Regions from separate parts of the Homo sapiens genome. Here region 1 is linked to region 2. The links come from fine-mapping of genetic effects on gene expression. Tissue or cell type: whole blood. Region 2 holds a variant in brackets; the other region holds the start of a gene. All regions are shown on one strand. Distances are between the middles of the regions.

Region 1 (2,762 bases), 38 kb after region 2:
CTCATGCTGAAGAACATTCAAATTCTTCATCATGACTTCTAAGGCCTCATGGTCTGGCCTGGCCCTCTCTCAAAGAACATCTCATTCTGCTCTCTTTACCACCACATTCTGGTCACACTGGCCTCCCTGGAGATTTCTACCTGGCTCAAGCCATGCTTCTCACATGTAATTCTTCTGCTTGGCACTCTGCCAACTCTTCCCCGACTACATCTTTGCTGAGCTTTTGGTCTCATCTGAAATGTCTCCTCCTCAAAGAAGCTGTTCTATACAACTCCATCTAACTGGAGTTCCCTACCCTGCTGTGCACAAATTTTTCTTGATCACTTCACCCTTTTAAGTAGCCTTCATAGACTTATCACTATTGATAATTACTTAGTTGTTGTTTACTTTATATCATTTATTTTCTCCATCATATTGTTAATTCTGTAAAGGCGCAGGCCATTTCTGTTTGTTCCTTGCTGTATGTGATGCTTCATAGGTATGTAGCATAGGAGATCCTGAATACATTTTCTGTCATCCTTACCCTGACTTTATCTTACCTTTTTGGGTTTGTTTTCCTTATGTTCTTGTTTTCTTACTTTGTATTGAAATGAGAGAAAAACTCACAACCCCCAGGCTCTACTCAAGGTTGGGGGCCAGAGGAGGTAGAGCTTCCTCTGCTCCTGTCTCTTCCACCCGCCATCCACTCACTCGCCATTAGTACTGTGTGTTGTGGGCAAAAGAAAAGCTTTCTACTAGTGTTTCTTCCCAGGGAATGTGGGATTCATCCTGGAATGCCAAAATAAGGATGAATTGTCTAAAGAGAAAACCAGAATGCCTTTCTGGACCAAAGATTGAAATTGCTCTGCCTAATAATGTAAACAGTTTATTTTCACTGACTGGGGGCAGAGTGTTCCTTAGCGAGATTAATATGATACTAGCTGCTTTTTTGTCTTCCTCTGGCAAAGGCTAGAGATAACAAAAATTGGGGTTCTAGACTCTAGGGAGGAAGGACAACATTCACAGCTCCATTTGTAGGAGGTGAGGAGGGCCCTTGAGAAAAGTGGGGTGTGAGCGAGTATAGGACATTCAGGAGAGAGATGATCAGTAGGGGACACCCTGGGAGAAAGAGATTCTGAGCTCTTTTCTTTTCTCCGGAGCCCTGACCCTTGAGCAGTGGCACACAGAGTGTCTTCCTTTATTCTCTGGTACAGTAGTCATGTTTCTTGGCACAGTGCCTTGGACCTTCCATACATGCTTTCTTCCCTCCAGAGCCTTCGTCTAAGATGCTGGAGAGTAGCTTATAGCCTGGGCATCAAGTTTGTCGATTCTCCCCAGGACCCTTTTCTTTATAGGTGCCACATGTCATGATTTATGCACAAACATGATTTGCCTGACAGTGCAGTCTGGGCCTGGAATAATTTTAATTAATGGGAAAATGGTCCTCAATACACCGATTAGACCTCTTCAGGTACAACAAGATAAAAGCCTGATAATTTGGATGGAGTACTCTTCTTAAATATCTACTCTGTGCACGGCAGCCAATGGGAAAGCCAGGCTCTCTCCCACCTGATCCAATGAGTAATTAAGAGAGGGCTTTTTCTTCCCTACCTCTCCCCTGCCTCCACCCCGCTCCCCAACTAAAGCTTAACAGGTTGGTGGCATAATGTGGAGACTTTTAAGGGGTGTCATCCTAGGAGCTTAGGCAAGAGCCAGGGTATCTTCTCTCCGCTCCCCAAGCACTGTTCAAGTGGGTTTGAAAAGCAGGCAAGTGAGGGAAGGAAGAAGCTAGAAGCAGGCAAGTTGGGTAACGGCTCTCGGCAAAGTTCGAGAAGTGCCTATGGCCATGAGTGAGCTGGGCACTCGGAAGCCCAGCGATGGCACTGTTTCTCATCTGCTCAATGTGGTGGAGAGTGAGCTTCAGGCAGGGAGGGAAAAAGGCGACCCTACGGAGAAGCAACTTCAGATCATCCTGGAGGATGCACCTCTCTGGCAGAGATTCAAGGAAGTCACTAATGAGATGATTGTGACCAAGAATGGCAGGTGAGTTTATCTGCCGCCCCGCGTGGGCTGGCAGGGCTTGGCAGGAGAGATGAGACCCCTTGAATATTGAAGAGGCTGCCGCTCTTCACTCAGAGGCGGCGGGATCTGATTAAACATGCTTACAGGAACGACTGTCTCCAATGGCTTTCCTCCAGCCAACTTAATTAATTTATCTGAGATCATCAGAGGATGAAGCCACCTGTCTTATGTGCATTTTAAATGGAGAAATTCTGGGGAAATTACCATAAAGTGGGGGGCATGCCCCATTGGGATGGGAAAATGGACTTAAATGTCAGAAAATAATATTAATTTGTGACTAGCTGCATACCCTATCGCAGACCTGAGCCCCAACTCCGTCCAGATAAGGTGAAAGACAACTTTATTTGGAAGCTGGATGATCTCCTCCTAAGTATAGCAAACTTGCCAGAAATGTTTGGCTAGTTGAAGATTGGAAGCAAAAGGGCAAATGTAAACTCATTGCCTATCACTTCATCTGCTTCCCCGTGTGTGTTTGTGGTGAGTGTTCATTTGAGATTGTGTGTGTTTGTGATGATATGAAAGCTGTTGCAGTAATAGTGGATGAAAACATATTATTCTGCTTTAGAGAAAAGAAGATGCCTTCTTTCTTATCAGTGCAACAAATTTAGGGATTAACTGAAACTGATCTCTGGTGGCATTTCTCAGATTCTATTAAACCTAGTCTGCTAAGGGGCTGTCCAGGTAATATTAGAAGATTTCAC
Region 2 (2,762 bases):
CCGTGTTGGCCAGGCTGGTCTCGAACTCCTGACCTCAAGTGATTGGCCCACCTCGGCCTCCCAAAGTGCTGGGTTTACAGGTCCGAACCACCATGCCTGGCCCCACCCTTCTATTTGTAAGTTCCCCTGGAATAGCTTTTCCCACAGTGTTCCACAGAAATAGTGTTTCTGTGGAAGAAAAGAGTTCTATGATCAAGTAAGTTTGAGAAACAGGTTAAGCAAAATTAGGTAGGTTCCTCTTTGCCTGGCTTGCTAGATCCTTCCATATGCTATGTGTATTGTGAGCTGCCATGAGGGGGACTTATGTGGCCATAAAACCCTTCTTGTGCAGAGACTCTTCTGAGACTACAGTGCAGAGTATATCTCAAGAAATGCTGCCCTGGAACCATCTTGATATTAAAATGCAGTGCCTACTCATGGAAATGCATCCATTCACCTCTCCCTCCCTTATGTGACTCCCAATGTCCTTAGTGCAGCACAGTTGAGAACGTGGAACAGAGCTGGGGTATGAGAAGCCTAGTGCCACATTGCACAGTGTGGTGTGGTGGTGGAAATGGAAGTGCTTGCTTGGGTAGAATAGTAATTTCTTGAAGACCAACTCTTCCTTGCACCCTCTACACTGAATTCCAAGCAGTAAATACCTGTGATAAGGCCATTATAGCATATTAATAAGTGCTCAGGACCCATAGTGAGCTCCCTTCTGCTGCCTGCTTAGAATGAAGAAAGGTCCCAGTTAATATTTGATTTAATGCTGTCAGTGCATTCTGTGATTTTGACCGATATTAAAGTGCAGCAATCCTGACTGATTTCTTAGTTTCTGACAGTCTATGTTATCTTTTTCTCTGATTATGATGGCTAATCCCATAATCAGACTGTCGGGTAAGTGGGGACATCCCCTCTTACAGATGAGGAATTTGAAACTCAAACAGGACAAGGAACTTTCCCAGGATAGTACTACTAATAAATGTTGAAGCTGCAGTTTGATGCTGTGAAGGTCTGATCTTTCAGTCTAGGTGCTTTCTACTCTGCAGCTTCCACTCTGGGTGCCCTCTAAAGGAGTGCCTTTGGGGTGATGACGTTCCACTCATCTTTGTGTCTTTTCTTTCCTAGGGATGCTGTGAAGAAGTGTTTTGCCGTGTGTCTTGCATAATTCATGGCCAGTTTTATGAAGCTTTGGAAGGCACTATGGACAGAAGCTGGTGGACAGTTTTGTAACTATCTTCGAAACCTCTGTCTTACAGACATGTGCCTTTTATCTTGCAGCAATGTGTTGCTTGTGATTCGA[A/G]CATTTGAGGGTTACTTTTGGAAGCAACAATACATTCTCGAACCTGAATGTCAGTAGCACAGGATGAGAAGTGGGTTCTGTATCTTGTGGAGTGGAATCTTCCTCATGTACCTGTTTCCTCTCTGGATGTTGTCCCACTGAATTCCCATGAATACAAACCTATTCAGCAACAGCACATAAGCCTTGGGTGCAAGTGATTCCCAGGTGGCAAAAGGCAGCCCCATCAGAGATCACGGGAGCAACAGTAAGGGACAGAGTTTTGGGGTCCACTTGTCCCTCAGCATGGAAGCCATCACCGTGGTCCTGCATAGAGTGAGTCTGCTTCTACTCTGGCATCTGAGAACAAGTGACTCTGCTTTAGACAAGCCCCTGGAGAGCCTGGCCATGGAGTGAGGTAGAAAAGAAGCACTTTTTGGTGGTATATGCTGTTTCTGAATTTGAATCTAAGCATTCTTGGTGTTCTGATTCTGCGCCTGACTGTGGAATGTATTTTCTGACATTAGGTGCAGACTCTTTTTCTCTTGGGTTTTATTTCCCATCCCTCCCTCCCTCTCCCTGCATATCTTTCTTTATGACCTCCTGGCACTAGATGGGGAAAGAACAGAGCAGCAGCAGAAAATGCTGCTGTTTTTTTTTTGGACGAGAGCCCATAGGAGTTGAAAAATCCTGCTGCTCTCAGCTATATTTTTTTCTCCATTATTTATAAATGTTTGCTTTTAAACTGATTTTATTTTCCATTCTCCCCTGGAGTTGGGCCAGGGGAGAGTGGGGTGGGAAGACAGATCCCTGCTGTGCAGCCAGCAGGAAGTAGGCACGCCTGCCCAGTGACCTTTAAATAGTCCCAGTGTTTGCACTTAGCCTGTGCTGGGGACACTGGGGATAAACTGCAGGTGGTCTCATGTCAGCCTGATGCCTAACCTACAAAGTGCTTTTGTGTCCACGATCTTACCTGGTTCTTATGGAGAGCCTTGTGAGGAAGCAGGGATTGTTATACCACTGTGCAGTCAAGGGAATCAAGGCCCACACTGGTTTTTGGATCCACCCAAAGCCACAGCTTCAGCCTCCTTCATGACCCCAGAGTTTCCTGGCCTGTTTCTGGTTGTGCCTCCTGTAACTGCCTGTGACTGTTTCCCTCGTTTTCATCAGCCAAGCCATCTCCTCCCTGGCCCTCCCTGCCCATCTCTTTTGGAAGCTTCTTCCTGGATCTGCAGGATGTTCACTGTCCCTTGTGTTCCCTTTCAGCTCCTCCTTGTTGCCTGACTACGATTAGTGCCCTGTCTTGTCAGCCAGCATTCCTGGCCCTCCAGGACCTCCAGAGTCATCCTACAAATGACGTTTATCTGGATTGCCTTTCTGTTCTTTGCACAGGGCCAACTGGTCCACTAGGGCTCCTCCTCTGTCACTGCTAAACCAAAGGAAGTGGCCTGCTGGTTGTCCCCTTTCTTGTGGCTAATTGCTGAACCTTTCTTTGTCCTAC

Evidence for each region. PIP is the estimated chance that this variant, and not a neighbour inherited with it, causes the effect.
Region 1: TBX19 starts here. The variant in region 2 is fine-mapped to the expression of TBX19 in whole blood (TOPMed, PIP above 0.99).

Annotation. Positions count from the first base shown.
Region 1 is chr1:168,279,272-168,282,033 of GRCh38, forward strand. TBX19 (T-box transcription factor 19) reads left to right here and starts at 1,606. Exons shown (of 8, transcript NM_005149.3): 1 at 1,606-2,022. The coding sequence starts at 1,820.
Region 2 is chr1:168,241,391-168,244,152 of GRCh38, forward strand. SFT2D2 (SFT2 domain containing 2) reads left to right here. Exons shown (of 8, transcript NM_199344.3): 8 at 1,111-2,762. The coding sequence ends at 1,150. Among named protein-coding and RNA genes, the nearest start is that of SFT2D2, 17 kb to the left of the region's middle. The variant A/G (reference allele first, on the strand shown) is at 1,286.